3 linked regions of the Homo sapiens genome follow. The protein of the gene in region 2 purifies or fractionates together with the protein of the main gene of each other region. This does not show direct contact. Each region holds a gene or a part of one and is shown on either strand. Other genes may lie near its edges.

Evidence for each region.
Region 1: the proteins of CD96 (region 2) and FAT1 purify together in Homo sapiens (affinity purification with mass spectrometry, with the first as the bait; one large-scale study listed by BioGRID). This does not show direct contact.
Region 3: the proteins of CD96 (region 2) and CLSTN1 purify together in Homo sapiens (affinity purification with mass spectrometry, with the first as the bait; one large-scale study listed by BioGRID). This does not show direct contact.

Annotation. Positions count from the first base shown.
Region 1 is NC_000004.12:186,591,340-186,594,992, forward strand, and holds part of FAT1 (protocadherin Fat 1 isoform 1 precursor), read right to left. Parts: intron 1-3,653.
Region 2 is NC_000003.12:111,594,051-111,597,703, reverse strand, and holds part of CD96 (T-cell surface protein tactile isoform 2 precursor), read right to left. Parts: coding exon of another isoform or gene 3,503-3,653; exon of another isoform or gene 2,638-3,502; intron 2,405-2,637; exon of another isoform or gene 2,202-2,404; coding exon of another isoform or gene 2,130-2,201; intron 1-2,129. Other genes in the region: ZBED2 (zinc finger BED domain-containing protein 2), read left to right, coding at 3,503-3,653. UniProt on the Homo sapiens protein: May be involved in adhesive interactions of activated T and NK cells during the late phase of the immune response. Promotes NK cell-target adhesion by interacting with PVR present on target cells.
Region 3 is NC_000001.11:9,733,391-9,737,043, forward strand, and holds part of CLSTN1 (calsyntenin-1 isoform 1 precursor), read right to left. Parts: intron 2,653-3,653; coding exon 2,495-2,652; intron 2,226-2,494; coding exon 2,077-2,225; intron 1,785-2,076; coding exon 1,558-1,784; intron 753-1,557; coding exon 582-752; intron 157-581; coding exon 11-156; intron 1-10. UniProt on the Homo sapiens protein: Postsynaptic adhesion molecule that binds to presynaptic neurexins to mediate both excitatory and inhibitory synapse formation.

The sequences.
Region 1 (3,653 bases), on a different chromosome or scaffold from region 2:
CACTTCTAGAAATTTCAGTAATTTTAAAAGACTGTGGTGTCTCTAAAACATGAATACGCCGGCATTTAGGTAACATGTATCTACAGAATCATTTTTAAGTCTAGTAACAAAAGCAGCAATTCCTTTAAACAAAAAAAGATCAACAACTTTTGTTACGTAGGCACTAGTAATAGCTTTCAACTTTAAATTCCATGTGCACTTCTTGGATATGCCAAAAAATATTTGTCAATGAAGGAGACTGCAATGAAGGAACTGTTGAAATTCTGCTTCTATAAGCTTCAATAATATTTAAAATGCTGAAGGTCATCAGTTTAACACTAAAACTTCACTAGACAAAATACAGGTATGTTTCTGATTTGCCCAGTGAAAACATGGTACTTCTTAGGAAAAGAAGTGTAGGCGTCATCAGTAACTATAACCATGAACACTGGAGTATCTAAGCCTCTTCTGCCTGATAGCAAATGGGGCCCAGAGCTATCCTCCCTCCTCCTGAACCTTGACAGCATCATGTCCTAGCATAAAGGATCCCCCGAACTCTATGATGACGTCTGTGTACTCGATGGCCTCTGTAAGCAGTTCTCGAGTGGGATCTCTAGACCGGCACCATCAGAGCTACCTGGGAACTGGTGAAAAATGCAAATTCTAAAGTCCCAACCCAGACCTGTTGGATCAGAAATGCTGGTGCTGAGAACCAGCAATTGGGCTTTTAACAGCCCTCCAGATGATCTGATTCACATTACAGTTTGAAAAGTACTAGCCTGTGTCTTCCCCATGTGATGAATTTCAGTGCACTAATAAAGGGCTATTTTAATTTAAAATAATTTGGGGAAGGTGCTCAATGTCCTTTCTTACAACTCTGAGCAGATAAAGCTTCACATTAAATAATTTTCACTAAACCAAATATGAAAATATTCTTTTACCATGCTCTACACCCTTTTCTTTGATCATACTCAGGGAAAAACCAAAAGTGAAGAGTCAGTTACAGGTTAATTATGAAAGCTTTACATTATTCAAGTCTTATTCCTGTACATACGAAGAAGAATTTTTGTTTCAAAAAAATTTTAGGTAAAATTACTTCTGAACTTTTTCTTGATTGCACCACCTACAGATAAGCTCTCCAGATCTCATGTAAATCACTATGAATGGTAAAAAGGAACAAAGACATAACATACATTGAGATATTTTTTGCAAAGCACTCATATTACGTATATACACACCTGCATAAAATAAAAGGACTCAACCCCCTCAAAACCACAAACTGTTTTTTCCTACCATTGCAATAGCAATGCGGCCGAGCTCTACGACACGGCTGCTGCAAGACACAGACACAAGCACGAGCACTTACAACTGTACCTTCTGTGCTCACCGTGTCAACCACAGCATTGACAAGGTGCATTACGGTCACTATGGAAGCTTGCAAAAAGGTACAAAAGCAGTCAATTAGGAACATCTTCAGTTAGTTAGAAAACAGTGCATGAAATAAAGTTTTGTATTATACCATTTCTACCTCAGATTCCAACCGATGAGTGCTTTAATACAACCACATAATGATGCGTGGTCTCCTCACTGTTAGCTGTGTGTCTCAGAGACTTTTTTAATCGAGCTATATATTTGTTATTATTAATCAAAGGAATAACGTAAACATATTTTATTGGAATTTAAACAAAAAAACTTTTAGCTTTAAATTTTTTCACAATTACAATTATGCATCATGCCAGGCCAAAACGATTCTTATTTTAACATCTTACAGGCAAGACTCGACATTCCAAGACTACAGTCTGTGGTTCGCCACTCTTCCGGCTGCTTAATCACTCACACATTGTCCCCCAAAAAAAAGAAATTGAAGGAGAAACATATGCAATCTAAAACAAGAATGTTTTTGTCCCTGTTCTGATTGCTTTCCCTGCAAATTTCTCGTCTGTTTGCAGATGGACTAATCGCTGGTGAGCTAATGTACGAGTATAGGAGGAGACTCTGTCCGTCTGTTTCCTGTGTAAATTCCCTTTTCATTTGTGTATCAGATTGTTTTAAAATAACTATGCCAAGGTAAATATGTACGCATGTGGTAGGCAGAAGGCTGGCCCTCAAATAGTCCACGTCCTAATCCCAGGAGCCTGTGAATATGTCACTATACATGGCAAAAGGGACTTTGTTGACGCGGTTCAGATAAGGAAATTGAGATGAGGGATTTCCCTGGATTACCTGGGTGGGCCCAGTGTAATCATAAGGGTAACTTTTCTGCACAGAGGCGTTCCCAGTTACGGCTGGGGGGAGCTCTGCTGACAGAAGGGTGGTCAATGAAACACTGTGTTGCTGTCTCTGAGATGGAAGAAACCAAGAGCCAAAGAATGTGGGCAGCCTCTAAAAACCAGGAAAGGAAGGAAAACAGGTTCTTCCCTCGAGCTGCAGAAGGCAATGCAGCCCTACTGATCGCATGACTTAAGCCCTGTGAGACACAGGGGTTGGGCTTCTAAGCTACAGAATGACAGCAACACAAGTCTACATTGTTTTAGGCCACAAAGTTTGTGGTAATCTGTAATGGCCCTGGAAAACCGGGAATACGACGCAGGAACAGACTCTCAGCAGACTTTCAGTTTACAACTGATAATTACATTATGGTAATGAGTAAAATAAAAACACTCCTGTATATATGTTTTTTCTCTGCATTGTACTATCTGGAAGCTAGTTTTCATAACTAATTTGACCATAACTTATTGAAAGCACTTGGGACTATTTTTTTTTTTGAGACAGAGTCTCGCTCTGTCGCCCAGGCTGGAGTGCAGTGGCGTGACCTCAGCTCACTGCAAGCTACAACTCCCGGGCTCAGGCCATTCTCCTGCCTCAGCCTCCCCAGTAGCTGGGAGTACAGGTGCCCACCACCACGCCCGGCTGATTTTTTTTATATTTTTAGTAGAGACGGGGTTTCACTGCCAGGACGGTCTCGATCTCCCAACCTTGTGATCCGCCCGCCTTCACCTCCCAAAGTGCTGGGATTACAGGCGTGAGCCACTGCGCCCGGCCACCTGGGACTATTATTAAGAAGACTGATGTTCCAACAACAAGAACTAGAAAGAAAATGCTGATAAAATTCTGAAATGTATTTATAAAGAGCATTTAGGGGCCAAGATATAAATTATTACATAAACTGGAAACAGGAACTTCTTAGAATTAAAATTGATAAAAGACATAATTCTATCTTGTTGGTTTAACAAGCAAAGCTATGTCCATACACCCTATTCCTAATCAACACAGGTATATTTTGATACCATATATACGGTATCAAAATATACCTGTGTTGATTAGGAATAGAGTGTGTATATATATATATACTTGAAAGTATATATATATATATATATATATACTTGAAATCAGAAATGATAGCACATACTTATAGCTATCTTTAGTTTGAAAAATGACTGCAATAGATAATGACTATATGGATTTATGGACTATATGATGTATTATGGACTATATTACTCTGGATTGAATAATTATTAGTGGGGTTACCTTTTCCCACCAATAAAATATTTGAAATGTATAACATATTAATATGTTTAATAATAAACGTATTACGTTTATACAATAAAAATTATCATTAAACTTACTAATTCTGAGATTCAAAAATTTCCACTAAAAACTACATTGTGTTACTG
Region 2 (3,653 bases):
TGTTTCTGTGCTCCAAATAATGTACGACACTATTTGTAACAATCACAGAAAACGATTTATATAAATATCCTACTTTTTACTTGTGAAGCATTTTCCTAATTTTTAAAAACAATTCATTGGCTTAATCTTAAGGATAGGTAGAGCATGCCTTATTTTTGCCATTTGACCAATGGAAAAATCAAGGCACCCAGTGGTTCGAGGAAGTGGAAAATAGTTAATGGCACAATTAGAAACCATGTCTCCTTAATCTCAGTCCAACATATTTTTTAATAAAAATTGTATTGAAATAAAAAAATGAAAGAAGTAACTATATTATGAAAGCAGAGAACTTAGATGCAGGGCTAGTTATGTTTTATTTTCAATGCTATGTTTGTTCTTTGGGGGATGATACTTTCTTTTACAGTCTGGTGAAAATATCCAGTGAGAATTATTGGATTCCCATTGTTTTATCTGAGACTCTTCAAAATTATAATTCCTTTTATAATTACTTGTTTTCTCATCAAGAGATGTATATATTTTACATATGACCAGCCCTAGTTCTTAGTTCTCAGATATTTTCCACAATTAATGAATATACTAGTTAACATGTAAAGAACAATTAAATGTATGTGATGATTTGTGTGCCAATCCTCAGACTAGTTACTCCCAAGAAGTCTGGGCCTATAGAGCTGAGAAACCAAATTCGAGAATGCTAACTAACATTTTCCTGGTGAAATCCTACAGAAGTTTACTATTTCTCAGTACATTGCTACAGAAATCCCAATGAAACAAGAGAATTTCAGAGGGGGTTGTCTAGCATATCCAAGATGCTGGGTGGCAAACACCGTAGCTCCCAGTATTCCCATCCGTTCAACACTTGCCTTTCCAGATAATGGGGATACATATATGGGCCAGGGATGCTAGTCTCTCCACTAAAAAATTAAAAGCAAAACCAGATCCTCTAAAATACATTCTTATTAAGTAAAGGAGAGTGTTCAGTTTAATTCAATAGATGCCAAAGATTGATTTTTATCTCCAGTTGGTCCAGGAAGAGACAAAAAGGTAAAGGAGGTAAAATGTTTTTTTAAAAAAAGAAAAAGATACAAAGTTTTGCATTAATCCAGTGACATTAACCATTCTTATGATTCATTTCCTTTCTCTTTAGTTAACCCACCAAAGATGACGATATGGTAATATCAGGAGTAAGTGGGGGTGTTATTATTTTACGAAGGCAACTGGCTCACTGAAGAACTCTGGTTAACGTCTAAAAATTTTGAAAAGATTTGACTTTCATGAATTCTCTAGGTTCAGATTTTCTGAAATGATCCAAATTTCAAACATTCTAGACTCTCTCTAGACTTTGCGTTCCAAGATTTGGTTTAGAAATGTGGTTCATGTTCTAAAACTCCTCCCAGTCTCATTCCTATTTTGAATCTTTTTCCCCCATCTTTTTTTTCTATTTTAATTTAACTGTCAACCTCTACATATTTTCTGCTATGCCATTTCTTTTTCTTTTCTTTCTTTTTTTATTTTTATTTATTCATTTTATTTATTTATTTTTTTGAGACAGAGTCTCCCTCTGTCGCCCAGGCTGGAGTGCAGTGGCATGATCTTGGCTTACTGCAACCTCCACCTCCCGGGTTCAAGCAATTCTCTTGCTTCAGCCTCCCAAGTAGCTGGGATTACAGGCGTGCACCACCACACCTGGCTAATTTTTGCATTTTTAGTAGAGACAGGGTTTCACAATGTTGGCCAAGCTGGCCACGATCTCCTGACCTCAAGTGATCCACCTGCCTCGGCCTCCCAAAGTGCTGGGACTACAGGCAAGATCCATGGCTCCTGGCCTGCAATGCCATTTCTATCTTTCCTTTTATAACACAAAGTTTTTTCTTCTTCTATTGATACCTTCTTTAGAGTCTTCCTATCTCCTCTTGGTAGGTTTTCCTTCTCAATCTAAATATGTATACACACACATATATATATTATGCATATTATATATAATGTATGTATATATATAATATATATGTGTGTATACATTTAATATTTCAGCCTTTCCCACTCTTCCTCCTTCAAATCGCTTGCTTTACTTGAGAGGTTAGGTAATCTAGTCATCAAAAAAGAGAACTAAGACTTGTAGGTGCTTGACTTACTGTTTTGCTGCATGACATATGCCAGGAACATCCTTTTCTTGGTGGTGGAGGGGGTGGAGAAAAGGTTTGCATCTGTGTCTAAGTGTTGCAGAAAAACCCAACAGGCACAGACACACCTACCTGGAAACAATGCTTCCCTAGAAGTGGGAGGAAACCAGAACTGGAGGTGCCCTCCTTCTGGGGGTAGGAGTCAGCTAATAGACATCCAAGGTGTGCAGGAGTGCTTTCACTCTGCGCAGGAAAGATCAGAGAGAAGTCCAGAGCCTTGCCTGCTTGTAAGTACCCACTTGTGGCTGGGGGGAATTTCCTAACTGTTCACGGTTGCAGAGCTTGATTAAATAAAGCTCTCATTAGTTTAAGAAATGACCCAAGAAAGGAGAGAGAAGTCGGGCTGTTTTTAAATGTAATATGATTTTCCATTTACTTATTTATCTTTAAAATGAGGTAAAGAGCAAAACATCTGGAGTAAGTTGCCTCAGGAAGGTCTTATTGGCTGTTGGCTTTGCAGGTGATCCTGGTGGAGAAGGTGGAGTATGGTGAGCTGCTTGCTAAGGACAGCCAGGCAACGCTGTGTTTGTGAAGATGTGCTCCACCTTCTCCTCTGTGCATCCCAGCTCCTCCTGCTGAAACAGCTGAGCTTGCTTTTTGGATTTCTTAGACTCCTGGCCTCTGAGAGACACCTCTAAGGACAAACTGACCTTGCATTGGGAACTTTATTATCCAGATCCTCATAGGCTTTGTCTACTCTGGATTGCTTGTTGCAACAGTTCTTAGGAAGCAAGATTGTCTCCTGCACCAGCATCTGCCTGTGTTTGCTTTTACCTACTTTGAGCAAGACCCAGTGAGGCCCTAGCTCTGTTGGTCCTGAAAAGCCTGAACCCTGAGGCTGTTTCTCCTGCCTCCAAAATGCAATTATAGGAAATAAGAAGCACAGAAACAGTGGAAACAACCAGGAGGAGAAACAAGAAAACCTAAAATTTTCAATATTCAAAAATACCTGTCGTGGTGGTTGATGCAGAAAACACTGAGTTCATCAAAGAGCTTTGTAATTGTTGGACCAGAGAACCCCTTTGCTACAGGAACTGATATGTTTTGTCTTTCTGGCCTAGTCAAGGGAGGATAAGTAAGTATCTGGGGCATGGAAGGAATGCACTCTTGGGCTGTTTTGCTTGTATCTGACTCACCCCTGACTCTCCAGTGAAGCAGAAAGGAAGAAACCTCACACCACCCAGGTGTGGCCAGACTTTGGCCATTATTGTGAATCCCCAAGAGTTACCACAGGCCCTTCCCAAATATATATTTAATCTTGTGGTTCAAATAAGCTTTTGGCTCACATCTAAGCACATCATAAAGAACGCTGTAGAAGAGGTGACATGATGAGGCGGGAAGACGAGGAAGAGGAGGGAACAATGATGAAGGCAAAAGGGGACTTAGAGATGAAGGAGGAGGAAGAGATTAGTGAGACAGGAGAACTGGTTGGCCCTTTTGTGAGTGCTATGCCCACTCCAATGCCCCACAACAAGG
Region 3 (3,653 bases), on a different chromosome or scaffold from region 2:
TTGTACTCACCTCCACCTTAAATTCGTTGCTGATGTAGCGGCCATTCAGCTCTGAGCAGATGAGCTTAAACTTCCGGTCAAGCAAGGACCTGGCATGCCAGTTCCGATAGCGCAGCAGGTGCAAAACCTCCTCGTAGCTGGCCATGGTGTCCACGCCTGCAGGGGTTGAAAGGGGGAAGATTGCCGGGTGGCTTAGGGCAGGAGCATGGGCAGGGCTGCAGCCGTCAGCACAGGCAGGCTCAATTAGACACCCAGGTTAGCTAGGCCAAGGGGTCACACAAGTTGGCTTTCTAGCCATGGGAATAAATGCAATGTGCACAGGGGCATTCTTCCCTCTGTGGGGGACGTGTCATCCCACGCCTCAACCCTCCCCCTTTAGAGAGTAGTGGCTACACATCCGGTACCTGTCCAGGAGACAGGAGTATGCGTGCAGCCAACAATGATCCCAGCGAACGTGCTCCTTCCCCATCTCCCTCTAAGATAACTCAACATTCTCAGATGGCAGGCAGCAGCCAGCCAAGAGCTCTCAAAGTCCCCTCTTGCAGCCTGGCCCACCTGCGTGGCTGCAGCGCTCCCCTTACCTGTGAAGGTCATGCCCAGTTCAGAGCTGCTCACTTCAATGCCCTTCTGCTGCAGGCGGGCCATGTCCACCTCCAGGCTCTCCTGCTCGTGGTTCAGCTCCTCTCCCTCCACCGTGACCTCACAGGTATCCAGGTCGTGCACGATCTCCTCGGACACCAGTGATTCTTGAACTGCAAAAGAGGCCCAACCAGAAATATTAAGTAGGGGCAGTGGGGCCCAGCGTGGCGGGGCACACTGGATGCCCTGCCGGCTCACCCCAAACCTACATGGCTCTCGTAAGGACCAACGACAGAAGCAAGCGAGAGTTGCTTTCAAGAAACGGCTGGGCGCAGTGGCTCACGCCTGTAATCCCAGCACTTTGGGAGGCCAAGACGGGTGGATCACCTGAGGTCAGGAGTTTGAGACCAGCCTGGCCAACAGGGTGAAAGCCCGTCTCTACTAAAAATACAAAAATTAACCGGGCGTTGTGGCAGGTCCCTGTAATCCCAGCTATTCGGGAGGCTGAGGCAGGAGAATCGCTTGAACTCAGGAGGTGGATGCTGCAGTTAGCCAAGATGACACCATTGCACTCCAGCCTGGGCGACAGAGTGAGACTCCATCTCAAAAAAAAAAAAAAAGGGGGGGAGTTTCATGTGTCCTGAGCAAGAATTGTGGGGACATTGTGCCTCCATGGGCTGGCCAGCCTGGCAGGTGCAAGCAGTGTCTCCCGTAAGTGCCCTCAACCCCTCAACCTCAAGCCACATCTCAAAGCCTGGCAGCAACCAGGAAAAGATGTAAGACCCCTCCAGATGGGATTCCAGAGATCACCATGAGCTCCAGCTCACGGGTCAGATTCCAGAAGCACACCCGAGAGAACACCAACGAAAGATTAAAACCTCCCCAAATCCCACAGAGACAAAGAGCCCCGCCAAGTACATGGGGACAATGGGGTTTCCGGCCGAGGCGAGGGAGCCCGCGCCCCACAGAGCACATTACCTGTGGGGTCCTCAGCCCCGTCCCCTTCAGGCTCCACTTCTCTCGTGATGGTGCTGATGATGCGAAGCTCAGGGAAAAGGAACACCCCTTCTGAGCTTTCAAATTCAGAAGCTGCTCGGGCAAAATGGTGGACGCCACTCAGGCTGATCTTGGGCTCCTCGGGCTGTAAAACCATCACGTAGCCATCTACCGGGGGGACCGAAATGCAGGTGGCCTCGTTAAAACACCTGCCAGCAAGAAATGGGGAAGGGTCAGGGCTTTGGGAGCCGATCTTGGAGCCCACCTGTGCAAAGGCACATGGAGGTGGGATACAGAGGCCCCCACTAACACCTGCCGGGGCCACTCCAGGAACACACTTGCAAACAAGATGCGTAAATATCACTCAGCTCTCTGCCCCACACTTTCTGGTTACACACGATGGCTCACCTTTCCTTACAGAAGGGGTTAGGCTGTCTTAAAAACCTAAATATACAAGTGTCATTGGGCAAAACAGGCCGGCTGTTAAAAATCAGGACGTACTTGATTGTGCTGGTGATTTTGAGTCTGCGAATTCCGGGCGTGGGGAACTGCCGGGAGTTCAGGTACGAGATGTGCTGCATGGCCTTATCCAATTCCCCGAGGTCTTCTCCCTCCAAGGTCAATACCAACTGGCTGGGGTGTGCTTGGATCTGAAATCACACCAGCCACAGAGAGGAGAAGAATAAGCCAGTAACCGCAGGAGCTGAAACCACAGATGCCTCCACAAAGGGGACTGGCCTGGGTTCGATTTGAATTGCTGACTTGAAAAAGAAAAGCTCGTTTAAGTCCAGTGAACACAACTCTTTTACCCAACAGTAAACGTATCAATCACAGATTACTCACTCCCTCATCCCACCAGCCTCCGGGGCTGTAGTCTAAGGGGCCCATGAGTGGTGTGCAGTCGAGCGCTCGGTGTTACCTGCACGCCTCTGCCACTGTCTTCGAGGACCTGCAGGTCCAGCCCCTCCTTGCAGGTATACAGACAGTCGATCACCTTCTTATCCGCGAGTTTCCCGGAACGGAGAGTTAAGCCAGCCAGATTGCCTCGGAAAAACTGGGTCATGTGCAGGTCGCCACCTTTGGGTCAGGGGAGAAAAGGCGAAGTCAGGCGTGCAACCCAGCATCGCCCAACTCACTTCTCACTCAACACGGTGTTACCGGTGCTGGCAGCTCAGTGGATGGACATGCGGGTTAGTTCATACCAAGTCCTGTTAGCCTTGCAATCTACATGGAAGCGCAATGAAGAAATTAAACCGTTTATGATCATGCACATGGCCTGGAGAAAGGGAGAGTTGGGGGTGTCTCACCTGAAGCCAAGAGGTCCCCTGAGGGTCCCCACACCTCTGGCCACTACCTGGTAAGGTGGCCTACCCTGTTCTCATCACCAGGGTGCATGGTGACACTTCCTACGCCACCAGCCTCTCCAGCCACTGCCTTCTCAGCTGGCTGGGTTCCACATGGCTGTTTTCTCTACCTGGCACGCCCTGGGGAATGAACCCACACAAGCGAGGCAGGGAGGATAAAAGGGAGGCTTAAAATACTCCCTGCATGGAACGGCCTATTTCAAGGATGCTATGGTGTTAAGTCCCATCCTTCCTGCCTCCTCCTGAGGATTGCTGAGAAGTGCAGATGTTACAACGAAAACCAAAACCCAGAAAATGGCCCTTGACAGATGACAACAAAGAGCCAGAAACAGGTTACACTAAACCTTGTTCTTAAACTGAAAAGGAAAAGGGACAAATTTTCAGCAATGTGTCTCATTCTGGTACAGAAATCAGGCACTGTAAATCATGACTAGGAATTGAGGTTTCTAAGAAACGGCTATTTGCCAGGCATGGTGGCTCACGCCTGTAATCCCAGCGCTTCAGGAGGCCGAGGCGGGTGGATCACCTGAGGTCAGAGTTTGAGACCAGCCTGGCGAACATGGCGAAACCCCGTCTCTACTAAAAATATAAATATTAGCTGGGCATGGTGGTGCATGCCTGTAGTCCCAGCTACTTGGGAGGCTGAAGCAGGAGAATTGCTTGCACCCAGGAGGTGGAGGTTGCAGTGAGCCAAGACCGCGCCACTGCACTCCA